4 linked regions of the Homo sapiens genome follow. The protein of the gene in region 4 interacts with the protein of the main gene of each other region in a pairwise test. Each region holds a gene or a part of one and is shown on either strand. Other genes may lie near its edges. The genes, in order: MPZ, DCAF10, MAP2 and CCP110.

Region 1 (6,936 bases), on a different chromosome or scaffold from region 4:
GGGAGTGTGTAGAGGGGCCTCGAGAAGACCTTGCGGACCACCATTCCCGAAAACGAGGAGCCTCATCTAACCACCTCGATTAGACCCCACAATTCCTGGGTTTGAGCTGCCACATGGACCAGGCGCCCACTAGCCGAGGACAATGCTCCCTTGTTCGTTGTTTCAGCGCTATGTGGGTGACACCCACAGCTAGAAGAACCCGGAGTGAGGGGAAGAACACGCTTTGATTTATATATGTGTATATATATATATACAGTTTTAGGGAACCCAAGCACAGGAATCAACTGCCGAGCACTCAAGACTGAAGAAAGAAGAAGAGCAAATGATAAAGGAAGGGAACAGAGCACAAAAGTTCTTGACTCTTGTGGGGAGTAGGGTGGAGAGGAGTAAAAGGGACAGGCTAGAGCAACTCCTATTTCTACAAAAAAAATACTCAATTATATTAATATTCAGATCTTATGTATATTTAGCATCCCTGCACTTCAGGATTTAAATAGCACAAATTCACTTATTTCTGCATCAGATGAATAATACTACTTTGCATTTCTATAATGCTTGACAAAGCACATTCGTACACTTTAGGATTGAAAGAGGCTCTCTAATCCAATCTACTATCTATGCAGGGATCTCCTCTGCAACACCCATAACAGCTGATCTTCAAGACTCTACCCCCCCATATTCAATGATGGGTACCTCAAACAACAAGTTTTATTTAATGAACAACTTATTCGTTAGTTATTATATTTAAATACAGTTTTGTGCTATCGAAATTCCAGTCATTGACTTGGCTCTCTGGAGCTTCACGTTAACAAACCCAAGGAATGCCTTTTTCACTCAGATCTTTTTTGGTTTTTCTTTTTCTTTTTCTTTTTCTTTTATTTTGAGACGTAGTCTCACTCTGTCGCCCAGGTTGGAGTGCAGTGGCGCTATCTCAGCTCACTGCAGCCTCTGCCTCCCAGGTTCAAGCGATTCTCCTGCCTCAGCCTCCCCCCAAGTAGCTGGGATTACAGGCCTGCACCACCATGCCCGGCTAATTTTCTGTATTTTTAGTAGAGATGGAATTTCACCATGTTGGCTAGGCTGGTCTAGAACTCCTGACCTCAAGTGATCCACCGGCCTCGGCCTCCCAAAGTCCTGGGATTATAGGTGCGAGCTACCACTCCCAGCCCACTCAGCTCTTTAAATATTAATAATTTCATTTAGCATGTAGTTATGGACTTTTTGTCAGTCCGTGAAAAGTTCTGTAGGGGATTCAAAGATACAGATGTTTGTACTGTCCCCAAGAAGGTTATAGCCTTAGCAGGATCAATAAAGACATGCAACAAAGAAAGTAGCAACAACCCATTGAAGAGGGTGTTGATAAAAGGGGTGGTTAGATAAAGAGGAAATGATTGCTTACAGTTGGGAGGTGGAGTTAGGTGGAAATTTTGGAGGGGAGAGTTTTGGGGGTTTTTTTTTTTTTGTACTTTGAATTGCTGTTTTATAGAAATGTTGACTACAACATCCTGTAAACATTTGTCAATGATGATGGTTTTGCCTATGGACTTCATAAGCAATCCCATATTTAGAATTCCACAACCCAAATCTAATACTAATGACCATACCCACCAGGGCTGTGGTCTAATGAGATGCCAGGAAGGTACCAGGACACTGTCCTTCACCTGGGTGAGCCTGCAGTGGTCTCATAGCAGGAATAACAATGACCACCCCACTTACATTAACTTCTAGAGGTCAGGCACGGTGACTCACACCTGTAATCCCAGTACTTAGGGAAGCCAAGGCAGAAGGATCACTTGAGTATAGGAGTTCAAGATCAACCTGAGCAACACAGTGAGATCCTCATCTCTACAAAAAATTGAAAAATTAGCTGGGTATGGTGGTGGCTGCCTGTGGCTCAGCTAATCTGGAGGCTGAAGTGGGAGGATCGCTTGAGCCTGGGAGGTTGAGGCTGCAGTGAGCTATCATTGCACCACTGCACTACAGCCTGGGCCACAGAGCAAGACCTTATCTCTGAAAAAAAAAAAAAAAAAATTTTAAACTAGCCCAGCATGCTGGCATGCGCCTGTAGTTCCCAGCTACTTGGAAAGCTGAGGTAGGACAATTGCTTGAGCCTCAGAGGTCAAGGCTGCAGTGAGCCATGATCATGCCACTGCATTCCAGCCTGGGCAACAGAGCGAGACTGCCTCAACAAACAAAAAAACCTCAGCTCTGGTTATGTAGACATCCCCATGGCTAACTCCACCCCAACACCTTCAGGTTCTCATGATGTACCAAATTGAATTCACCTTCTTTCACCTGTCATTTAAGGCCTTTCACAAACTGGTTTCGACTTTCCTGTCCAGTCTCATTTCTGACTATGCCACTTCAAGTTTCCCCAAATCAAGTCAAAGTGGATGGCACAAGATCGGCCCTGAATATATCCAACACTTCAGAAACCTACATCTCATATACATACACACACACACACACACACACACACACACACACACACACACACACACACACATTCTGTCTCTCCGTCTCACCTCTTTGTCCTTGCTTTTGCTGTTCTATCTTCTGGTAACCCTCCCTATCTCCCTTTCCAAAATGACAGTCATCCTTCAAGGCTGATTCATATCTAACATTGCCTCCTAGACACAACTATTCTTCCCTCTGAACTATTTATTTGTTTGATTATTTATTTATTTATTTATTTTTGAGACAGAGTTTCATTCTGTAGCCCAGGGTGGAAAGCAGTGGCACAATCATAGCTCGCTGCAGCCTTGATTTCCCAGGTTCAAGCGATCTTCCTGCCTCAGCCTCCCAAGTAGCTGGGACTACAAGCATGTGATAACATGCCCAGCTGATTTTTTAAAAAATTTTGGTAGAGGCGAGGTCTTGCTATGTTGCCCAGACAGGTCTCAAACTCCTAAACTCAAGCAATCCTCCTGCATAAGCCTACCAAAGTGCTGAGATTACAGGTGTCAGCCACTATGCCTGGCATAAACTTCATTTATTAAAGTTTATTTTGTCTTTAATCTCTCATATAACTTAGTCTTCCTGATATTGCAGCTGTGTGTGCCCCTCTTTTGTACTCCCAGCATTTTGTTCATTACTAAAGGAAGTGTCATGGCTTATTATACTTGATTGTTGATGGGTTTGTCCTCTGATCTTCCCATCTCCACCTCCCCAAACCAAATTTTCAACTCCTTGCTGGAAGGACTTAATTTTTATTCCTCTCTCTATTACCTGCATTCTCATACTTTACATATTGCTGGCACTTAATACAATTTTGTAGCCTTGAAATAAATTGAAATGGACTTAAACAGCAGCATGAAGCACTGAAGGACTTCTTGACAAACGGAAAGGTCAGGGGCTTCTTGCCTGGAAATAGTCCAGTGGAGAAAAACTTCTGTCTGGGAAGAATCGCACAGGATGAAGGGAGGTGCGGGGAAAAAAACTCCCATAGGACTTGGTCATCTCAAGAAGTCTGTAATGCAGCCCACATTAGAGGAGATAACAGGGGATATCCTATTTTCAGAGTTCTCTGGGGGAAACCTCCCTCTAGTTCCTAGGGCTGTGAGGCAGCCTCTCTCAGGCAAGGAGGCTGAGGAGAAATCCCTTTTTATGGCCTTTAAATTGAGGTTCCATATCTATCCCTCAGAGAAGTGTGTCTGTGTCCCTGTTTTTGTCCCTCTCCCTCACCACCCCCCACAACATTCCAGCCTGGGGCAGGGGGAGGCCAGTGGACACAAAGCCCTCTGTGTATGGGGTGGTATGTGTCCCCCCACCCCTCCACCCAGACTATACAATGCCCCTTCTGCTCCCTGCACTCTGCCCCCCTCCCCACCACCTCTCAACTGCACATGCCAGGCTGCAATTGGTTACTGGCTGAGGACAGCCCCCTCATGCTGGGGCCCTAGGGGATTTTAAGCAGGTTCCAGGAACCCCCCGTTCAGTTCCTGGTCCCCCACTTTCTCAACCCCACAGATGCTCCGGGCCCCTGCCCCTGCCCCAGCTATGGCTCCTGGGGCTCCCTCATCCAGCCCCAGCCCTATCCTGGCTGTGCTGCTCTTCTCTTCTTTGGGTAAGTGGAGCCACTCTACTCTGGGAGTCTTGGGACTCAGGTGTCTCTCAGCAATCCCCACAGCCTTTGCTGCACTCCCCACTGCAACCAAAGAAAGAACAAGCAGGAGCAGGAAGGTGACATTATATTCAGAAAGAAAAAATATGCGGCTGGGCATGGTGGCTCATGCCTGTAATCCCAGCACTTTGGGAGGCCAAGGTGGGATAATTATTTGAGCCCCAGGAGTTGGAGACCAGCCTGGACAACATAACCAGACTCCATCTGTAAAATTCAAAAAAAAAAAAAATATATATATATATATATGAAAAGAAAAAAATATGCATTTAGAGGGAGGAAGTAGAGGTTTTATTTTAAAAGAAAGGGTAAAAGAGAGTGTAGCAAGCTTCCCTGAGTGGTGGCCATGGCTGGACCCAGGTTGGAAATAGTAGCATGCCCCCAGAGCCATGCTAACAGCCTGGTGGGAAGCAGTGTTAGATTACATAAAGAAATAGGCTCAAACACCTGGGTTTGGTTCCCACTCGTCCCCTAGCAGTGCAGGAGGTGCCTTAACCTTAGTTTCCCAGAAGGAAAAAGAGAGTGCGATCTAAGTAAGGAGCCCAGGTTTGTGGTCTCAGCTCCTCAGATTTTTTGTCTCTCTATGGCTCCTCACCTGTTGTGTGGGTGAATGGAGTGAGGTTCTATGAGATTCTGGGATCTTATCCCTCTAAAGCTGTCTTCCTTCATAAGCTGACCAGCCCTTTCCTTGCCCCCTGGCAGATGTTGGGTGAGTAAGAGGTCAAAGCAGGATTATTGGAATGGCCCCTTCCCTTCTCTGAACTGCCCTGAATCCTAGTGCAATGAGTGAGCCATAGGCAAGTGGGGGTGGTGGGGAGGACATCAAGGGAAAGGGGGCTGGCCAGAATGCCCAGGGTTCTCTGCTGTCAGCTGCTTGAGCCCTAGACTCTTCTGGGTTGTACTGGGCTATTTGGGGGTACCCTGAGAAAATGTTAAAGATAGAGAGTTGGAGAAGGGCATAGTGAGGGAAATAGGGGGAAGGAATCTTGATGTATAAGGAAGAGGGAGAGTTGTGTCTCAACACTTGTTCCACTCATAGAACCATTGAGCACAGCTGAGAAGGGCAATGGTTGATATTGTAACAGGAGGAATAGAAGTTAGAGCCAGTGAATTATCTCCCTTGTTAAACAAGGGGGATTCCCAAGAAGGTTCTAAGGTGGAAGTTCCAGAAGGTAAGTACATGGTATTGCATGCTGAGGTGAGAGATTCAGGACAGTTGGGGTGGGAGTAGGGGTGGCATGAGCCCCCCAGCGTTGGTCAGACAATGGAACTTTGTTTGGTTGCCACCTCCCCCTCCTGTAGAACAAAAAGGTCTACAGTTGCCCCTCCCTGGGGCCAGCCCACACACATAGTCTCTCTGGAATGACCTTCCTTGTGTGGGTAAGTCTTGGGGATGGCACTGGGCCACAGTGGCCAAGAGGAAGGTGAGGACAGTTGAACCATAGAGGGCTCACATGTAGGGTCATCTGAGCTGTAGGCTTGGGGTGTTGCTCTGCACCCAGCTGAGAGGGGTATGAGGCCCTTCCCTTCCTGACTCTCCAGTCAAGAGCAAGCTGTATGGCAACCAGGGATTCAGCAATGAGGACAGTTGTGCCAGGGAAGAAGACTTATATTTTCTAGTTATCTTCATTTTTTTCTGCAAGAAATCTGAGTTTGCTGTATTGTGAAATCCAATGCAGCTGTTAAAATAAGATTGATATCTATGAATCAACAGGGAAAGCTCCTCCAGATACGTAAGTTCTTAAGCAAAAAGACACTAGAATACAATGCAATATGTATGTGGAAAAAAAAACTCCACAAAACTATTTGTTGTAAGTATGTGTATATCTTGAGTTTATTGAGTTTATACTGAGTTTGATTCATATTAAATGGATAACTTGTTACATCTTGGAAGGGAATACAGGAAAGGAATTTGTTGGGCTAAGTGTCAAAGGAGACTTTTGTTTTATTTCTATTGCTTGAATAGTTTATAAGAAGAGTACAATATGTATTACCTGTATAATTTATAATAAATTTTAAAAATTTAGAACACTGCATCTAAAGGATAGCTTAAAAGTTAGATACTGACCCAAAGGAGAAGTGAGACTTAAAGACAGAACCCAATCTCTGGAAGTCCTCAAGAGAATTCTGTTACTGCTGATTTCATCTTCTCTACAGACATGCTAAAGAGCTTGACAGACACAGCATTTATGCTCATCTGTTCAGTTAGTCCCCAGAGACTTGGGGCTCAGAATTTGTTGTTTCTTTTCCAAATTGGCCTCTGACCTGTGACTCAGCACTTGATTTCCTACTGATCTCACTTCCTCTGTATCCCTTACTGGGCCCATAGGTGCATCTGATTCCCCACTTTGTGCTTGCAGTGCTGTCCCCGGCCCAGGCCATCGTGGTTTACACCGACAGGGAGGTCCATGGTGCTGTGGGCTCCCGGGTGACCCTGCACTGCTCCTTCTGGTCCAGTGAGTGGGTCTCAGATGACATCTCCTTCACCTGGCGCTACCAGCCCGAAGGGGGCAGAGATGCCATTTCGGTGAGTGCCTGGGGGAATCCTGGGGTTGGATAACAGAAAGTGCTTCAAAGAACAACAAAAAAGATAACTTGGGCTAAGGAGGGGGAAATCCTTTTTGAGCCATAACCCCAACTTTGGCAAGGTAAATGACAGTCTTTGTCACCCTGACTACATTGTCCTCCCTTCTCCAGCACTACCCTTTCCAGCCCAAGATCCCTTACCCTGAGGCTGGAGCGAAGCTTTTTTTTTTTTTTTTTTTTTTTTGCTTTTTTCTTTCTGTAACAAATTATGGAGCTAAGCTTTGACAGCT
Region 2 (7,029 bases), on a different chromosome or scaffold from region 4:
ATATTTAAATAACAAGCACCGCATGAACACTTGCCAGTCAGAATAGATGCAGATGGCTGTGCTGGAACAGGGTCCTGGAATCGCCATATTGTGTAAGGGGGACTTTTGCTGCTGAATCATGGGAAGGTTTTGTGGGAGGTATCTCTAGAAGAGGGGCCTGGGTAGTCAGAGGGTGTCAGAGGGTAACTCAGGGCAGTGCCTATTTACGAATTGGTATGGAAGAAGTTCAATCTTTTAACAGTACTTCAGCTGAACCAGTACATATTGGCTAAATATTAGTCCTAGTAATAGGTCTATTTCAGGTTTTCTATTTCTTCCTTGGCCAGTTTTGCTAAGGTGTATTTTTTTAGTAAACTGGCTATTTCATCAAAGTTTTCAAGTATATAGGGATAAAGCTCATCTATCATCTTCTTCTATATTGTTGTCTCCTTTTTATTGCTGATATTAGTTATTTATGTCTTTTTTCTCTTGATGAATCTTGCCAGAGAATTGCCTATTCAATTAGCTTTTTTCAAAGAGCAGGCTTTTAAAAATCCTCTATTATATTTTCATTTTTGACATCATCAATTTTATGCTTTTACACTTATCATTTCCATACATCTACTTTCATCGGGTTTATCCTTTTACTTTTTTCCAGTTTTTTGAGTAAGATGCTTAGTTCATCAATTTTCAACCTGTCTTCAGTATGATTTCTTCTTTGATCCATAAATTATTTAAAAGTGAGTTTATAAGTCTCTAAACATGAGAATTTTTAATTAATAACTAAATGATACTAAGAACAGGGAAAATGGTTTGTGTGATAATAGTTCTTTGGTACCAGCTGAAACCTACTTTGTAGTTCAGTACATGCTCAATTTTTGTACTGGTTCTAAGTTTGCTTCAGAGGATGTTTTCACTAGTTGTTGGTAGCAGAAATCTAAATATGTGTAATACATCAAGCTTATTAATAATATTTAAATCTTCCACAGCCTTATCCATTTTTGTTTGTTGTTGTTGTTATTTTTCTTTTTTGAGACAGAATCTCACTCTGTCACCCAGGCTGGCCCACTGCCACCTCTGCCTCCCAGGTTCAAGCGATTCTCCTGCCTCAGTAGCTGGGATTACAGGCGTGTGCCACTAGGCCCTGCTAATTTTTGTGTTTTATTTATTTTTGTTGTTGCTGTTGTTATTGTTTTGAGACAGAGTCTGACTCTGTGGCCCAGGCTGGAGTACAGTGGCACAACCTCGGCTCACGGCAACCTCTACCTCCTGGGTTCAAGTGATTCTCCTGCCTCAGCCTCCCAAGTAGCTGGGATTACAGGTGCCAGCCACCACGCCTGGCTAATTTTTGTATTTTTAGTAGAGATGGGGTTTCTGCGTGCTGGCCAGGCTGGTCTCAAACTCCTGACCTCAGGTGATCCACCCACCTCGGCCTTCCGAAGTGCTGGGATTACAGGTGTGAGCCACCACACGTGGCCTAATTTTTGTATTTTTAGTAGAGATGGAGTTTCACCATGTTGGCCAGGCTGGTCTCCTGACCGCAAGTGATCTGCCCACCTCAGCCTCCCAAAGTGCTGGGATTACAGGCGTGAGCCACCATGCCCGGCCCATTTTTGTCTATCTTATCTAGATAAGTAAATGAGAGAATGCTGTTAATATTTTCCACTGAGATGGAGATTTCTCACTTCTTTCTTGTAATTCTGTCCACTTTTACTTTTTATAGTTTTATGCTATGTTTTTAGGCGCATACAAGCTTTTATATTTTAGTGAAATTAATCTTTTGTTATAGTACCTTTTTATCAGTAATGCTTTTTGTCTTAAACTTTATTTTGTTTGCTATTAATGTAGCCACAACTGTTTTGTCTTTGACGTATAATTGTTTGTTTTTTCTCATCCTTTTACTTTCAACTTTTCTAGGTTTGTATGTTTTAACTGTGTCCCTTACAAAGAAAATACAGTTCTGTTTTATTTTTAATCTAATCTAACACTGTCTATTTTTAACTGGACAGTTTAGCCCATATACGTTTATCACAGTTATTAATATTTGGATTAAAGCTTAGGTTATCTGCCTACTAGTTTTATGCTTTGTGAAATAACAAAAAATATTTTTCCTGAAATTAAGGAAATTTATTTTGTAAGCTAGTTTTCATCATGAACTATACAACTTGGTCTCCTTCCTGTATAATTTTCTCCAACTTTTTAGTTGCAGTATATGACTAGTTTTGTGCTTCCTAATTTACCTGTTCTTTTAAATAATTATCTTTTTTCCTTCCCTTCTCTGCTTCTATGGGATTGATCATGTTTTATTAGTTTTTTACCCTCTACTAATTTGGAAGTTACATTTATATTTCTATTCAAATTTTATTTCTAAATTTTAGTAAACAAATTCATTTAGTAGGTATGCTTGTCTTTGTCTAAAGATAACCAATAGTTTTTGCCTTCCACTCAAAGAGTATGGGTAGCTAGAAATCTCCAAGAATAGCCCCTCTCTTTTTACATATGACCTCTAAAAAGAATATTTCGAAAATGATGGCCACACACAGTGGCTCATGCCTGTAATCCTTGTATTTTGGGAGCTAAGGCAGGAGGATCACTTGAGCCCAGGAGTTCAAGACCAGCCTGGGCAGCATAGCGAGACCCCGTCTCTACAAAAAATAAAAAATTAGGTGGGCATGGTGGCTCATGCCTATAGTCCTAGCTGCTCAGGAGTCTGAGGCAGGAGGATCACTTAAGCCTGGGAGATCCAGTCTGCAGTGAGCTGTGACTGTACCACTGCACTACAGCCTGGGTGACAATGCGAGACCCTGTCTCAAAAACAACAACAAAAACAAATATACACAGAAATGATCATGGTGTGTTTACTATATTATCATTTCACCATAGCTAGCAAAGCAGGCATATTTTAATTGTTTTTCAAACTTCAACTCTTTAAATATCAATTTCTTTATAAGGAGACATTTTGTTGGAATGTTGCACAACAGAGGCATAACTGGCATTTTAGGTGGGACAACTAGTCCACTGTGCACACTGACCTGTGTACTGCAGGAGGTTTAGAAACTCTGGTCCTTGCTGACTACATGCTAGTAGATAGTTCTCTTCCCCCATAGTGACAACCAAAATTGCCCCACGCTTTATTCCTAAACATTCCCTTTGAGATCAGTACCATTCCAAATGAGAACTACTCTTTTAATGCATGAAAACAAAGAACAAAAATTGCAAAATAAATATATGTAGAATTGAGGGAAGAAAAAGTGAGAAACAGTTTAGTTTCACAGGAGAAATAACAAAAATATTTTTCCTTAAATTCAGGAAACTCTTTTTTTATAAGCCAGTTTTCATCATTAACTATACTACTTGGTCTCCTTCCTGTATAATTTTCCCCAAAATTTTTAGTTGCAATATATGACTAGGTACAATTAACAAAATATATCATCACTTTTTGGTTGCTTTTCCTAAAGCCAGTTTCCTTCTTGAGGCTAGGACAGAACACTGAATTTGTTCACCATCTTTAAAAAAAATGTTTTTGTTCATAATCCTAACATGGTCTCCTATTCACAAACCTGTTAGTGTCCCAAATAATGACATTTCCATCAAATCCTGATGTTACTAAGAGTCTTGTATTAGTATCATATTCGATGTTCTTCACCCAGCTAGTGTGACCATGTAAAGTGCATACTTTGGTGTTCAATTTTCTCAGATCCCATAGTGCTATTGTAGTGTCATCAGAGCAGGTAGCAAACAGCCGGTTATCAAGAAATCTATAAAAGCAGAAAAACAAAACCCTGGTTCATTTAATCTCTTTTTAAAGGAAAATTGATTTGAGAAACAGTCACTATATTACCTAGTCAAGAAAGAAAGAAAAAAAGGACTACACACTCACTATGTAAACCCAATGACTGATATACTATAAAAAGTATACTTTGCATAATCACAGAGCCAGGATACTATGATTTAATGACAGTCATATTGCAATTGGATCCATTTGCTTTAAATTACTGATTTTTATTTGAAATTGGAAATAGGGGTAAGTGTTTGGAAAACAGTGACAGAAGGGAAAAAAAGAACTTCAGAATCTCTATAGGAAACAAAAATGATGAGAGAGAATTTAATAGGCGATAGAGGAAGTTTTGAAGACTTGATTGCCGAGAGGGACACATTACACATAATCAAAATCATGAGAAATATTTGCTCTGCTACAAGGAACATCTTTTTCTATTTAGAACACAGTTACATACAAAAATTGCTATAAAATTGCCATTATTTTAAATCTTTTAACTGAAAGGTATTTCCCAAATAATCTCTTAGCAACATTTTATTAGGACCAATCAAGAAAATTACAAAATAGGCTTAAAATACTCTATAATTCAGACTTTTTATTATTTTACACTAACTTCTCAATCCTTAGTGAGAATATATTTAATACAAATACTTAAAAAATAAACTACTATTCACACTTGAATTTTTGCTTAATTTAACATTAGGATGCTTTCTGTAATACATGCTGTTATCCTAATCTCTTACAGAAGAAATGAATTCTGGTGCTTCTTCTAAGATAAATTTACATATAATTGTCAGAAATCAACCTCAATATCCACAAACACCATAACGACCTTCCTAAAATTGATCACGGTTTTCAAATACCAGGCGTTTACACAGGTTGTTTCTGCTAGGTGAAACAACCTTCCTCCTGCCCCTGGATCTGGCTAATTCTTGCTTTCTTTTTAATACCATCATGTGTCACTTAATGATGGAATACATTCTGAGAAATGTGTCCTTAGGTGATTTTGTTGTTGTGTGAACATCATAGAATGAACTTACACAAACCTAGATGGTACACACTGAGGTTATATGGTATATATGGTATATAGCCTATCACTCATAGGCTACAAATGTGCACAGCATGTTACCATACTAAATACTGTAGGCAACTGTAACACAATCGTAAGTATTTGTATATTGAAAGATAGAAAAAATACAGTAAAAGTACTGTATAAAAGATTTAAAATGTTACGCCTGTATAGGGCACTTACCATGAATGGAGCTTGCAGGCGTGGGAGTTGCTCTGGGTGAGTCAGTGAGTGAGGGGTGAGTCAGTGTGAAGGCCTAGGGCATTACTGTCCATTACTGTAGACATTATAAAGACTGTACACTTAGGCTACACTAAATTAATTTAAAAATTTTTCATCAGTAATAAATTAACCTTCGATTACTATAACTTTTTTTACTTCATGAATTTTTAATTTTTTAAACTTTTGACTCTTTTGTAATAACAGCTTAAACACAAACACATTGTACAACTGTACAAAAATATTTTCTTTCTTTATAGCCTTATTTTATTAACTTTTTTCTATTAAAATGTTTACTTTTTAAACTTTTTTGTTAAAAACAAAGACACACATTAGCCTAGTTCTACACAGGGTAAAAATCATCAATATCACTGTCTTCCATCTCCACATCTTGCCCCACTGGAAGGCCTCCAGGGGCAATAACAGGAACAGAGCTGTCATCTCCTGATAACAATGGCTTCTCCTGGAATACCTCCTGAAGAACCTCCCTGAGGCTGTTTTACAGTTTAATTTTTTTTTAAGTAGGAGTACATTCTAAAATAACAATAATAAGTATAACATAGTAAGTATTAGGCAATAGGAATTTTTCAGCTCCATTATAATCTTCTGGAACCACTGTTGTATATGGTGTCACTCACTGAAATGTTGTTATGTGGCATATAACTGTATTCAGCTGTTATGCCCTCCAGGAAGCCTTCCTTGTTTAACCAGCCTGGTAGACCTACCAATTCTCTGAGCTCCCAAAGCATTCTGGGAGCTTCTATCATAATACTTAATATTATACTGTAAGGAACAACTTTACTGTAAACTCCCTGAAGACAGAAGGAACCTGTCTGCCTAGGGTCATGGTTAGATCTGCAGTATACAATACACATGGTGCCAGACACATATGCACTCAACAAATACTTACAAAATAAATGAAAGAGAAGTTCACTGCCTAGCAGAAAAGACACTGTAAGTACATAATTACACGAAATAATTGTGTGGAATAAGCAAAGAGGGTGGCTGGGAAAGACTTCATGATGTTATCATTTGAACTGAATAAAAGATGAGCAGGAACTCCCTAAGTGGTCAGGGTTACTAAGCAAAGATACACAGGCATGTGAGCGGATGGTGCCCTCTGAGAAGCAGCAGTTAGGAGTGCTGTGTGTGGGAAAGTAGAGATGACTAGGGAATACATTATGGATTTATTCTATGGTGATTACCAGTAACTATTTTTTAATTATAAAAATACATTTCCTGGCCAAGCGTGGTAGCTCATACCTATAATCCCAACATTTTGGAAGGCCAAGATGGATGGATCACTTGAGCTCAGGAGTTTGAGACCAGCCTGGGCAACATGACGAAACCCCATCTCTTATTTTAAAAATAACGATAACAAAAAACATTTCTACTGAAAATATTTTTAATGAAAAAAAATCGGCTGGGCGCAGTGGCTCACGCCTGTAATCCCAGCACTTTGAGAGGCTGAGGCGGGTGGATCACAAGGTCAGGAGTTCAAGACCAGCCTGGCCGAGATGGTGAAACCCTGTCTCTACTAAAAATACAAAAAAAATTAGCTGGGCATGGTGGCGGGCGCCTGTAATCCCAGCTACTCGGAGGCTGAGGCAGAGGCAGAGAATTGCTTGAACCCGGGAGGCGGATGTTGCAGTGAGCTGAGATCGTGCCACTGCACTCCAGCTGGGGCACAGAGCAAGATTCCGTCTCAAAAAAAAGAAAAAGAAAAAAAAAATCCATCACCAAAAATAACCACTTTATTGATGTTTAGCTTAATTTCTGTTTTAAACCTAATATTATCTCAAAAACATATTGCCATTATTAAAGGTTTATTAACAAAATCATGTTTAATGGCTGAATAGTGTTCACTGTATGAAGAACTGAAACCTTTTTTCTTTTTAATTTTTTTTTTTTTGGAGACAGAGTCACGCTTTATCCCCCAGGTGCTCACTGCAACCTCTACCTCCTACATTCAAGTGATTCTCAT
Region 3 (7,029 bases), on a different chromosome or scaffold from region 4:
TTAGAAGTAACTTGCATACATGGGGAATTTACAGCCCCAGAGATCCACTGAGAGAAATATGAATGGCTAGGACATGTGACAAGCCAGGGCTATGATTCAGTCAGTGTTGTAGGCCAGATCTTGGACAATTATCTGCTCAGCTGCGAAATCGTGCCGAGTTGAACTAAGAATATCAAACGTTATTTTAGGCTTCTGCTATCCCATGATATAAAAAGCATTGTGGCTGAGAAAGTTCTGAGCATCCATCCAGAAACATCTTCCATGGAACAATCAGTAAATAATGTGCTTGAAAGATTAAATGTATTCTCTCTACAAAATGTTATTTTAGTATCCTCATGATTTCAGACTTATTTCTAGTTGTCAGCACTTGGTTGCCAAAAATAAGTTACTGTCCTAAAAATACAGTATATTTGCAAATTAATGCTATAATTTTGTCTTCTTAAAATCTGATATAAATAAAAACTGTACAGATAGATACTATAGATTTTGTTCTTATTATTGAGAGTCATGAAATTTTAAATTGATATCTCAATATAAGTAAATAAATAGTGATTAGCAAATTTAGCAACCACCACATAGGCCTGAGATGTAACGTCTGCACCACATCAGAAGCCAAGTGCTCACTGAGTTATACGAGAATCCAAATGCTAAGCAGACTGATCTACAGTTGTATATTTAAGGAGATATGTTTAAATAATGCAAATTTCCTAGGCAAGATACAGGAAAGAACAGAAATGAGAGTAGTTACTTTAGCATTTCAATAAGAAATATGCAATAAGAGGTTTGAAACATGAAAAACAGCCAAGAGCCAGTGGTACAAATGAAACTACATGGAATAAAGTCTTGATGAATCTGCAGCCGACTCTGCAGAAATTTTTAGCTAATTGTATCTCTGCTAAGCTTTCAGAAGGAAAACAAAACATAAGAAAACAAGTTTATAATATTAGAGGCTTTCTTAAAACAGTATACTTTTAGTGTCCTGCAAATCAGAACCTGGTTTAAAATGATGCCTCTAGGTACTACATTAGCCTTAGCATCCAAAGAAAGAGCTATGCTGACTGCGCATTTCTTATTAAGGCAGGAAAGAGGCATAATGCATTGTAGATTTTTCTTAACAGGATTGAAATTAAAAATGACTTTCTGGTTAAAGTTATTAACTAGAATTAAATTAACCAAAACACTACTTGTGCATCCTAGATAATTAAGACTATGTTTTAAACAGGACTGTTTTCTTCATAATCTTACAGGCGTTAAATCCTAATAACTTTCTTCTTTTTAAACTTATAAACATATTGATCTAAGCATGAGTAGAGTTAACCTTCATGAAATAATTTCCTCCAAAGAATGCATTTGTTTTGTAATGCTTTGTTTCTATTCCAACGTTCCTTGGTTATTCTGACTTGTTTGAGAGGAATGTACAGATGATTTTTATTTTGCCGCAGGGCTGTCAATGCTTTTGGTTCACTTAGATCAATGGCAAACTTGCTTAAGGGATAGGTGGAATTCAGCAGTTACTGAGGCATGAAACATTCACTGTCTCCCATCCTCCATCAGCTTGATCTTGCTAATTTCCCTTCATCCTGCTGTGCTGCTTCTGTGGCCCTTCCTGCCCTTGTGTAGGTGTTTGTTTCGTCCGTCTGATCTTGTGTCTGTGTTGTCCAGTTCTCCCTGCAGTTTCTTCCTGTGTGTCTGTTTGTAGATGAAGGGGCTGAGGATCAAGTGGGTCCTCTACACAGGTTCCCCAGCCATGAACCTGCCACCAGCGGGGAGAGGCGTGGACTCCTAGCCCCCTCCATCTCAGTGTCTGTGCCTGATGATGACCCTTACAATTCCGATGAGGAGTACTATGAGCATCCTTTGTTCAGCTCAGAACGGACCACCTCTAGTGTGCTCCCCAGTGTCACAGCGCAGAGTGCAGAGGCCCACTTAGGCCAGGAGAAAGGTGAACCAAGCATGGTCCCCTTTTGCTCCTCCGCCCCGGCCTACAGCTTTGACCACCTACATCATGTTAAGTGTGCCTTAATACAGGGTGGGAGGGGCAGGAGCCTGTTTTCTCTGCATGAAAGTGAAGTTCCTATATAAGTTGAATCTATCCAAATGCCTTAACAATTTATATAAAAGAAGCCTTACTAGAGGCATGTGAGCACTTCCTTTTTCTGTATCATTGCTTCTGAGAAGGAAGAAAAAGAGAGAGAGAAAGAGAGAGAGAAGCAAAAAAATATTCCATTAAAGTATGGCTTCTTTCTGCTCCCTGCCAATAATCAGCTGGGGAAGAACATATTCTTTACCCAAACCAAAGAAGATGACTCTGAATATAATTTTTTTCCTCCTTAGACACATAATATTACTATTAAATAGCATCTTTAAATAGCATCTTTAAATAGCATTAGCTTTCTTTTTAGTGCTATATTAATATGATAGATCTTTAAAAGAGAAAGAATGAAGAATCTGTTTAGAGCAGAATAAATGTTATGGAAACAATTTATTTCCCCATATCATGTAATCATCTACAGAAACTACAGAGGCTTCCCCAGGTGACTAAATCTTGGCTCACATCAGTAGAGCTGGACTAAAATGAAGGAAATGATTCAAAGCCTTTGTCATTCTAGCCTTATAAAGCTGGGAGACTCAAGTGTATAATTGGTTATCGTGAGGATAAAATAAGTAGGTGATGGGCTGCAATGTGTCTCATTCTAACTAGGTAGTTTTGGTAAAGAAAAAAAAGGTACAGCTAAATATATTTTTGCTTAGGCGAAGAGTTTATTTCCAAAAGGGACAATATTTAATATGAAAGCAGATAGTTCTAAAGCAATAAGGAATAAGCTTACAGCTCACCAACTATGGTCATCATAATAAACGTCTTCAAGGACCCTTTTGAAAACAGAACACCAATAGCTCAGGTTCTCTGATAAAGAAATATAACCCCTATTAAGTGAAACTAAGTTCTTCTAAACTAAATTTCTAAAATATGTGAGTTTTTAAATTAGGAACAATTGTAGTGGAAATAAATATGATTTATACTAAATGAGAAAATGAAAAGCTAAAAAGCTACATGGATTTGAAAACATGTAAATTAACTTGATTAGACTTTATCCAAAAAGGTAACATTATAATGCAGTTATATTAAAATTCTTTTAACTGTAATCAAAATCTATGGCATTATAAAAATTTTCTTAAAATAACAAGTTAGAATTTAAATTTTTAAAATGCTACTTAAAATGCCATAATTAAATTACAAAACTAAAAATGAGTGCTAAATGTGAAGAGATTGATAATGTAGATTTTTTTTTCTCTCTCTGTTTCTCTCTGAGGATATTAATATTTCTAAAAAACAAAATAAAAGAAAATTCCTTTTCTTTTTATCTGTAGTCTTTCCCTCAGGGCCGTTTAAACAATGCACAATTATTTCATAAGAATTTTGTAAGAATCTTCCATTTACAAAACTATAAAACAGCTCATATATTTCTCTCTAATTCCTTAAGTGACCAAATGGAATTTACTTATTTTTACTGACATTTCAAGTGTAAATGAGAAACAAATTAGTGCAATAACTCATGAACTTGAAAAGTTTATCTTTACATCTTAAATGTTAACTTTTTTATGTGATATACATGGTTTGGGGGGTGGTTATTTTGGCCGTTTGATTGCCACTCAATTATCTTTCCTTGGTGATTTTGTTTTGAATTACAGAAATAAGACTTTATTACTAATGTGCATATTTTTTCTTTAGTGTCAAAGAGAATTATACATGAACTACATTACTGATATTTCAGGGAGTTTAACAATATGATAATAGTTGTGTCCCAGAGGTAGACTTTTGTAAACAGATTTAAATTTAACCTTGACCTTGTTTTTAACACATTTTATTTTACTTACTTTTTGAAAATGTTCATTTTCTCCAACATCATACAATGCAATGAAGCTAACATAACTTGACTTAGGTAGTCCCTTACCTTGGAAATGCTAAATAAATTATATTTTAAGTAAATTTGGTGGACTTTGTGATAAAGCTGTTAAGGTAGTTGGTTGGATATTCTTTTGAAGCAAGGCTTTTTTTATTCCCAAAGATTTCTTTAGCAAAATTTGCACATTTTAAATAAAGCAGCCGGGAATTCTTATGTAGGGGCTTCCTGCATTGGCGAAAACAGCACATGTCTAACAAATTTAAAGGCTTTTTTTTTTCAGTACATCAGTACATCCATCTTTTCACAACCATCTGTTATCCGGCAGTACCATCTCTTATTTCCAGCAAGCTTTCCACATGCGTGCAACTTACTGCCGTTTCCAATAAGGGTAATCAATCAATACAACCCTTTCAGCTCTCAAACTTTAAAATAAATTGCCTTTTAATGAGACTTTAAAAGTCATCACTATTAGCAGATTATACATCATAGTTTTCCAACCAGTACCTAATGTATGTTGCATTAGAATATTAATTTGTTCATCCCAATGGTAAAATAAAAAAACAGCTGAGGTCTTCATGAGGTCATTCTAATGGAGCTGAAAGTGTTCCTTTAGCAATATTTCTGTCGTTTCATGTATTGTTCTGTGGTCATGATGTCAACATCTTTTTCATCCCTAAGAAGAAGAAACGCTAGAGAGTCGGATGGCTGAGGAAGAGAAACCTGCTGCTCTTCCTGAGAAAGAGTGTGGGGCTGCTAAGTCCTCAGACCAACCCAAGGGCCTCAGTAAGGGCCAAATGGAGTCTAGTGCGGAGGCCCAAATAGTTCCCGAAGAGAGTGCCCCAGCAGGGGCCCCACATGAGAAAAGTGTAAAAGAGGTCAAGGAGGTGTCTCCAGAAGTAAAAACCCCTTCCTCTGCTGGGGAAGGTGTGTCTTTCTCAGGATTTGCATGTGTTTTGTTGCAAATGATCTCTCCAGTGGCTTACCAACCTGATGCCTTTCCAACGCTATTTCGCTATTTCATCGCTGGGTCTTATGATAACAAGTCCACTGTTGTAGGCTTAATGTGCAGAGAGTGTGGCTTGCGCAAGTGCTGTGTGGCAGCTGGTTTTCCAGTGCTGCAGCTGATTCCTGGTTTTCCTTTGCCATGATACAATACGCTTTGCAGCCAGGCTGATGATGCTATGTGAGCTTCTTTTTTTATTTTATTTTTTTACCCGCCCCCCCTCATCTCAAATGTTTGCCAGTCACATTGCTAATACATGTATATTTTTGTTTTTATTTTGGGGACAGCAATTCATATGCTTTTATTTCAAATCGTACAGTTGGATTTTGGCACATAGAGGCTTAAATGGTGGAATCGTTTTTGTTTGCAACCGAAATGTGCTATATTTTTTATGCTTCAATGAATACTGGTTTGATTTTCTTGACCTCCTGCTGATGCTTCTCATATCATTTTCTCCCCATGGCAGCCAGCCCTTCTGATCATCCCCATATCTCTTGAGTTTTCATTCATCTAACCTTTATTAGAAGTTCATCAAGTATTTTTTTTTCTATTGTTACAACAGGACACATAAGTATATAAGGTAATGATGATCCATACACTTGCTCTTTTAGAGATGATTGAATTTTATTATTTTTCCCCAAATCTTTTCCAGATAACTACATTTAGCTCTAATGACCACAGTGAACTACTTTGACCTTAAAACACAAGTGGGACAATAAAGCCTTTTGGATTGTTGAATAAATAAAAGTAAAAATGTGTTATCTAATTTCTGTGAAGCACCTCTAAAGCCAATACTGGCCAATGCTTCACCAGTTAGTCATGCTCCAAGGATTGAGGTCATGACCATGGGAATAAAGTTATTTCAATAGTTGACTCTTTTGAAAAGTTTGTTACTCACATGACTTCCCAGTATCAACAGTGTAATTCAGATTTTCTTATATCTACCGTACAGACTAAGTAATGATTAGGAATTTAAATTTTTAAATATGTAATAGAAACTGGCTTGTAAATTCTTAAGTCATATCATATAAAATTGATAGCAAATATTTACTTATATTTCTGAAATTTATCCTCAGATGAATTCTAAAAATTTATGCCAGTAACCTGTGGATGCCTAAAGAATTGGCCCTGACATTTGTTAATCAAGTTAACTGCAACTATTAACATTATATCATTGTGCATTACTTGGCCCTCTGCCCATAGCCTACCAATTCATTTTTAAATGATAAAACCAATGAAAATGTTCAGTATAAATCAATTCTTTATCTATATTTAGTCCTTACTATATATTCTTTTGTACCCTAACATTAGCTGCTTACTCAATATTCATTAGCTTATAACTTTTATGTATAGAAGGCACATGAATTTGTTTCTTCTGTAATACACATCACATAATGTTTAGGAGAGACCAAAAAAAAAAAAAACAAAGAAAAAAAGAGAAAAGAATATCCAGAAATATACTGTTCTTACAATTCCTTTGCACATTAATTTACAACCAGAGTTCATTTTAGTAATAGTACACATATATCTCAGTCCTGACCTTTTCATATTGACTTTTACATGGGTAGCATGCTTGCATGTTCCATAATTTTTGTTTTTATTCTACCATTCATTTATCACTTCAAAATATAATTTTAAGCTTATTTCCTGAACGCACTTGCCTATTATTTGTTTAAAAATCAACCCGATTACTTCAGATTTACTTACAGCCTCGAAGATGGAGTTCCACGATCAACAGGAATTGACTCCCTCTACAGCTGAGCCTTCAGACCAGAAGGAAAAGGAGTCAGAGAAGCAAAGTAAGCCTGGTGAAGACCTTAAACATGCTGCCTTAGTTTCTCAGCCAGAGACAACTAAAACTTACCCTGATAAAAAGGACATGCAAGGCACGGAAGAAGAAAAAGCACCCCTAGCTTTGTTTGGGCACACTCTTGTTGCCAGCCTGGAAGACATGAAACAGAAGACAGAACCAAGCCTTGTAGTACCTGGCATTGACCTCCCTAAAGAGCCTCCAACTCCAAAAGAACAAAAGGACTGGTTCATCGAAATGCCAACGGAAGCAAAAAAGGATGAGTGGGGTTTAGTTGCCCCCATATCTCCTGGCCCTCTGACTCCCATGAG
Region 4 (7,029 bases):
TTTTGTCAAAATATGAATTTTGATATTTAGATCCTTATCTAAAAGTAATTGCATAATTTATCGAGAATATTTTATTGAATCCTTGATTTAAAGCTTAATATTTTAAAAAGGTATTTTATAAATAGGTGCTAAAGTACACATTCTGCAGGAGTTGTATCATAAAAATGACACTCATGCTGGGCGTGGTATCATGAGCCTGTAGTCCCAGCTATGCAGGAGGCTGAGGTGGGAGGATTGCTTGAGCCCAGAAATTCAAGGCTGCAGTGAGCTATGATTTCGCCTTTGTCTAGCCACTGCACTCCAGCCTGGGCAACAGAGGGAGACCCTGTCTCTATAAAAAGAAAAAAAAAAAGAACGACACTTGTTATAATATTATTATAATTAATAATTTAACTATACATTATCACATATTAAATTATAGCCTGGGCGTGGTGGCTCACGCCTGTAATCCCAGCACTTTGGGAGGCCGAGGTGGATGGATCACCTGAGGTCAGGAGTTTGAGACCAGCCTGGCCAACATATAGTGAAATCCCATCTCTACTAAAAAATACAAAATGGTGGTGTATGGACCTGTAGTCCCAGCTACTTGGGAAACTGAGGCAGGAGAATCACTTGAACCCGCAAGGTGGAGATTGCAGTGAACCGAGATCGTGCCACTGCACTCCAGCCTGGGGGACAGAGCGAGATTCTGTTTCTTGAAACAAGAAAGAGAGAGAGAGGAGAGAGAGAGAGAGAGAGAGAGAGAGAGAGAGAAAGGAAGGAAGGAAAGAAAAGAAAAGAGGGAGGGAGGGAAGGGAAGGGAAGGGAGAAGGAAGGAAGGATAATTTGAGGAAGAAAAACTTGAAATAAATAATAATTGCTGATAATTACATGTACTTTTGGCTAAGCCTAAAATGATATCATTTTGGGACATAATTAAAAGGTTTAGCATGTTACAATAAACTGTTCATGTATAGGAAATAGAAGAGCAGGAGAAAATGTTAAAAGAGAAGAAGGCAATGACAGCGGAAGCCTCTGAGTTGGACATTAACAATGCAGTGGAATTAGAATGGAGAAAAATAAGTGACTCTAGTTTGCTGGAAACAATGCTGTCTCAAGCGGACTCACTCCATACTTCAAATTCAAATAGTTCTGGTAAATATTTAAAAATCCTTTTACATTTGGGAAAGTGATCCTACGGTAAGATATTTATTTGGCACACTATAAGATTATATCTCCTGTTTTCAAATGATTCCATGTCCAACCCTCTTTGCCAGCTGCTTAGTAACCAGTGAAAAATGACATGATAGGAGATCAAAGACTTGTGAGCAGATGTTTGTGAACAAAGATTACCTTTGCCAGGAAAAGATCAGGAAATTTGGCTTAGAGCCCAGTCTGATCATTCATGCAGCAGGTGATATACTTCAAGTGAAAACAGTTTGCTCTCTCCTGAGTGATCTTGAATTACCTCTAATTCCCTAGTCCCTTTAAATAGCTTATCTTCATATCTCAATTATCCTGAGATGCTGTTTGTGTTGAAAAGATCCACCTGGTATGTAAGCTTTAAAGTCCATAAATATTTTAAGTCGGCAGGTAGGTCATTTTTGGAGGCAGTTGTTATTCTTAATGAGTGTCACAAGTGTTTATTGGGATGTTCTTCGTATTCTAATTATATGACATCAAGTATAATACTATATGTATGTTTCTCTAGGTTTCACAAATTCTGCCATGCAATATAGCTTTGTTTCTGCAAACGAAGCACCATTCTACCTCTGGGGATCATCAACTAGTGGCTTGACCAAACTCTCAGTAACAAGGCCTTTTGGAAGAGCCAAAACTAGATGGTCTCAAGTGGGTAAACTTAATGATACATGTCCATCTATCTATTTATCTTTTCTTAAGAGCTATATTATCTTAGACTGTATAAATGAACACCAATAAACATTGTGTCTGTCTTCTTTCTCCTAGGTTTTTAGTCTGGAAATACAAGCAAAATTTAACAAAATAACTGCAGTGGCAAAAGGATTTCTTACTCGTAGACTTATGCAGACAGATAAGCTGAAGCAACTTCGACAAACTGTAAAAGTAAGATTCCTGTAAATCGTTTGTATTTCACTTCTGTCTTAGTTTCTATCAGTCTTGTGACAGCTGAGCTAACAGATTAGTTCAGAACTTAAACGCTTTTTAGTCACTGTAATCTAGGCAGTTTTAGAAGTCTGATTGTTTGTTGCGGGAAGTCAGGGACCCCGAATGGAGGGACCAGCTGGAGCCGCAGCAAAGGAATATAAATTGTGAAGATTTCATTTTAATATGGACATATATCAGTTCCCAAATAACACTTTTATAATTTCTTACTCCTGTCTTTACTTCAATTGCTGAACATAAATTGTGAAGATTTCATTTTAATATGGACATTTATCAGTTCCCAAAATTAATACTTTTATAATTTCTTATGCCTGTCTTTAATCTCTTAATCCTGTTATCTTCATAAGCTGAGGATGTAGGTCACCTCAGGACCACTATTGTGTTAACTCTACAAATTGATTGCAAAACATGTGTGTTTGAACAATAGGAAATCAGTGCAACTTGAAAAAGAACAGAATAACAGCGTTTTTCAGGGAACAAGGGAAGACAACCATAACTGACTGCCTGCGAGGTCGGGCAAAATAGAGCCATATTTTTCGTCTTGCAGAGAGCCTATAAACGGACGTGCAAGTAGGGAAGATATTGCTAAATTCTTTTCCTAGCAAGGAATATTAATAATTAATACCCTGGGGAAGGAATGCATCCCTGGGGGGAGGTATATAAACGGCCACTCTGGGAGTATCTGTCTTATGCGGTTGAGATAAGGACTAAAATATGCCCTGGTCTCCTGCAGTACCCTCAGGCTTACTAGGATTGGGAAATTCCACCCTGGTAAATTTGTGGTCGGACCAGTTCTCTGCTCTCAAACCCTGTTTCCTTTTAAGATGTTTATCAAGACAATACGTGCACAGCTGAACATAGACCCTTATCAGTAGTTCTGATTTTGCCCTTGTCCTGTTTCCTCAGAAGCATGTGATCTTTGTTCTCCTTTTTGCCCTTTGAAGCATGTGATCTTTGTGACCTACTCCCTGTTCTTGCACCCCCTCCCCTTTTGAAATCCTTAATGAAACTTGCTGGCTTTAAGGCTCAGGTGGGCATCATGGTCCTACCAATATGTGATGTCCCCCTCGGACGCCCAGCAGTAAAATTCCTCTCTTTGTACTCTTTCTCTTTATTTCTCATCTGGCTGACACTTATGAAAAATAGAAAGAACCTATGTTGAAATATTGGGGGCTGGTCCCCCCAATAATCGTTAATCTTTCTCAGATAATATTATGAATAACATGTAAATGAAGCAGTTTGTGTGTTTTTGACTTGCTTGAAAGTGAGTGGTTTGACTTCTGATAAGTAATAGTTTTATTTATGTTCTTAGTACAGTCGGTCCTCTATCTCTGGGTTCCACATCTGTGGATTCAACGAACCATGGATCAAAAATAATTCAGAAAAAACAAATGATGGTTGTGTCTGTACTGAACATGTACAAATTTTTTTTCCTTGTCATTATTTCCTAAACAATATAACAACTATTTACATAGCATGTACATTTATTAGGTATTTTAACTAATCTAGAGATGATTTAAAGTATATGGGAGATGTGCTTAGGTTATATGCAGATAACTATTTTATATAAGGGACTCCAGCATCCTTGGATTTTGGTATCTGAGGGATTCATGGAACCAGTCCCCCACAGATACTGACGAAAGACTGTAATTTTGGATTGACTGAGAAAAAGAAAAAAGCAAACTCCAGTGATCACAAATCTTTCTAGAAAAATGTTTTTGAAGGAGCATTTCTTTTTTCAGGATACTATGGAATTCATAAGAAGTTTTCAGTCAGAAGCACCATTAAAGAGAGGCATTGTTTCAGCTCAAGATGCTTCACTTCAGGAAAGAGTGTTAGCTCAGGTAAATACATGGATCCTGAAGGCTTTTAAGACATGGACATATTATATTTCTCCTTTTTTATTTAATCACTGAAAATAGGTTTCAATGAAAACTATTTTAATCTTTTTCTATAAATAAGTGTACATGGTATATAGTATTCCTGAACTCTAACCTCATCTTTTAAATGTATACAATATTTTCTTCTCTTGTGCCTAGTTGCGAGCTGCCTTGTACGGTATTCATGACATATTCTTTGTAATGGATGCAGCTGAAAGAATGTCTATTCTACATCATGATCGAGAAGTTCGCAAAGAGAAAATGCTCAGGCAAATGGTATGTTATATGATTTCTAATGAATAGAGTTCTTCTGGGTTTAGGGTAATTGATACTAAATGTCAGTTTTGGTTGACTTCAGCACCCTTCTTCTGATAATTCTTAAGCACAAGTAATTCCTGGAATTACTAGCAGCATTTAAATCTGTAGACAGATTTAAAAGAATTACATCATTTAAGAATTACATATTGTTTTCTTATTGGATTTTAGAGTTGAAGCTTTGAATGTTTTGCTCAGATGGCTTATACAATCTATCAGCTGCTCCTGATTGAATTTCCTTGAATTCAATTATAATGTGGGTTTTGCTTTTTTTGAAATCTGAGTTAGAAAACAGGCTCCAAGTTAATTTGAAGTATATCAGAGTATGTGATTTGAATCAGTTATCTTAGTGTGATTGGCAAAGGAAAAGCAAGCAAAATTTACATAATTCTAATTATTTAATTCTTAGAATTAGACTGCTTCAAAAATACAAAACAAGATGATTTAACTAAATTAAAAATGTTAGTAGAGAGAAGCTTTTCCAGGCAATGTGGGATTATAATACATTATAATATAGTGGTATTAATTGGTTCCAGTAGAGTTTGACGTTACTTTTGTATATTAAAGGATAAAATGAAAAGTCCACGAGTGGCTCTTTCAGCTGCAACACAGAAGTCTCTTGATAGGAAGAAATACATGAAGTAAGTTTTTTGTATCATGTCATGTTAGTTATCAAACCAATTAATTTTAGTCATCTGTTGGTCTATTTGCATATTTAAATTTAGAAATAAAGAGTTAATTTTTCTGCAGTTGAGCTGATAGAAATCCCCTTTATATAAAGAAATTTATTAAAATCAGGTGCTAAAATCTCATTTCATCTTAGATGAATTTATTTACTAAATTTGACAACATTCAACTCATATAACTGATAGCTGGTTAATCTTAAAAACAGTTAATCTTTATATTCAGTGCCTAAATATATTCCTTTTCTGATGTCCTAAAGGTTTCTTGGGAATAAAGACTTAATGGGAAAAATATCTTAATAACTTTTTTAAAAAATTCTTCTTTCTTGAATGCAGTCTTTAATATGCTTAGTACAGGTCTTCCAGTAGTACACCAGCTTCTAAATGATGATTTGTTTCTGTCATCCTGTATTACATTTGTAAGCATGTTTTCTTCCCTTCTCTAAATACATTATGTCCTTATTTTTATATTGTGTTAGAGCTGCTGAAATGGGAATGCCAAATAAGAAATTTCTGGTTAAACAAAATCCTTCTGAAACAAGGTGAGAAAAATCACTTAGTCTTAATGAGAGGCTTTTTGTTTTTTATAGAAAAAAAAAATTGGCTGGGCACGGTGGCTCACGCCTGTAATCCCAGAACTTTGGGAGGCCAAGACGGATGGATCACCTGAGGTCGGGAGTTTGAGACCAGCCTGACCAACATGGAAAACCCCATCTCTACTAAAAATACAAAATTAGCTGGGTGTGGTGGCACATGCCTGTAATCCCAGCTACTCAAGAGGCTGAGGCAGGAGAATCGCTTGAACCCGGGAGGCAGAGGTTGCAGTGAGCCAAGATTGCTCCATTGCACTCCAGCCTGGGCAACAAGAGTGAAACTCTATCTCAAAAAAAAAAAAAAAAAAAGTTAAAAAATTAAAATTTAAATCCCAAACTTCATTTTTGTTGACTTTGTTCTACTTGACATCAGTAGAGCACTTCTTGCTGAATTGGGTCGGGGGTCGTCCTCAGGCTCAAGATTCATACCAATACCTGGCCATATACCTAGTCACATGTCAGACCAGATGTGCCCGGACCTTTTGTAGGACATGCTATCTGTGGTAGAAATTTTGAGCGTGGTATGTCTTGAGTTCAGTTAGACAGTCCAGAGGATCTTTGATACTTATTTAAAAACCTTAGAAAGCTAATTTAAGCTGGGCTGGGAGCAGTGGCTCATGCTTGTTATCCTAGCAGTCTGGGAGGGTGAGGTGGGTGGATCACGAGGTCAGGAGTTCAAGACCAGCCTGGCCAAGATGGTGAAATCCTGTCTCTATTAAAAATACAAAAATAAAAGATACAAAAAGCCGGGTATGATGGCGCGTGCCTGCTCAGCTACTCAGGAGGCTGAGGCAGGAGAATTGTTTGAACCTGGGAGGCGGAGGTTGCAGTGAGCCGAGACTGCACCACTGTACTCCATCCTGGGCGACAGAGCAAGGGTCCGTCTCAAAAAAAAGCTAACTTAAGCTGGGCACAGTGGCATGCTCCTATGGTCCCAGGTACTCGGGAGGCTGAGGCAGGAGGATAGCTTAAGCCCAGAAATTCAAACCAGTATGGGTAACATAGTAAGACCCATCTCAAAAAAATAAATAAATAAAAAATAAAGCTAAAAAGCGAACTTTAATATTTCTGACCTGTTTTTTACTCCTGTAAAATGAGAGTGATACTTTCTTCTCTCACTGGTTTGAAGGGAAAAGTTAGCTTTTGTAAAGCATATGTATAAGAAAATTATCTAAAAGCACAAGGGTTAGTCTATATGTTGGACATTTCTTTGCTGATAAAAACCTAAGGTTTGGACTCTTAGTGAGCAAAATACAAGTATCATATTAATATGCTTTAGTCGATTTGCTCTGATTTGTGGTAATATATAGGCCATATTATTGCATAGTTGACCTTTACCTTACAGTCATCATCTTTCATCCGTTGAAAGAAAATGGGAAAAAATGGAATTTAACCTATTAAATTAATTTTTCATTTAATTTGTCAACAGAGTCC

What was found.
Region 1: the proteins of CCP110 (region 4) and MPZ interact in a two-hybrid assay, tested with the Homo sapiens proteins (one study listed by IntAct).
Region 2: the proteins of CCP110 (region 4) and DCAF10 interact in a two-hybrid assay, tested with the Homo sapiens proteins (one study listed by IntAct).
Region 3: the proteins of CCP110 (region 4) and MAP2 interact in a two-hybrid assay, tested with the Homo sapiens proteins (one study listed by IntAct).

What each region holds. Positions count from the first base shown.
Region 1 is NC_000001.11:161,306,969-161,313,904, reverse strand, and holds the start of MPZ (myelin protein P0 isoform MPZ precursor), read left to right. Parts: upstream 1-3,936; 5' UTR 3,937-3,969; coding exon of another isoform or gene 3,970-3,999; coding exon 4,000-4,066; intron 4,067-6,480; coding exon 6,481-6,647; intron 6,648-6,936. UniProt on the Homo sapiens protein: Is an adhesion molecule necessary for normal myelination in the peripheral nervous system. It mediates adhesion between adjacent myelin wraps and ultimately drives myelin compaction.
Region 2 is NC_000009.12:37,838,797-37,845,825, reverse strand, and holds part of DCAF10 (DDB1- and CUL4-associated factor 10), read right to left. Parts: intron 3,738-7,029; coding exon 3,540-3,737; intron 1-3,539. UniProt on the Homo sapiens protein: May function as a substrate receptor for CUL4-DDB1 E3 ubiquitin-protein ligase complex.
Region 3 is NC_000002.12:209,686,020-209,693,048, forward strand, and holds part of MAP2 (microtubule-associated protein 2), read left to right. Parts: intron 1-4,583; coding exon of another isoform or gene 4,584-4,829; intron 4,830-6,605; coding exon 6,606-7,029. UniProt on the Homo sapiens protein: The exact function of MAP2 is unknown but MAPs may stabilize the microtubules against depolymerization. They also seem to have a stiffening effect on microtubules.
Region 4 is NC_000016.10:19,540,931-19,547,959, forward strand, and holds part of CCP110 (centriolar coiled-coil protein of 110 kDa), read left to right. Parts: intron 1-956; coding exon 957-1,134; intron 1,135-1,690; coding exon 1,691-1,830; intron 1,831-1,947; coding exon 1,948-2,064; intron 2,065-3,866; coding exon 3,867-3,968; intron 3,969-4,163; coding exon 4,164-4,280; intron 4,281-4,886; coding exon 4,887-4,960; intron 4,961-5,481; coding exon 5,482-5,544; intron 5,545-7,024; coding exon 7,025-7,029.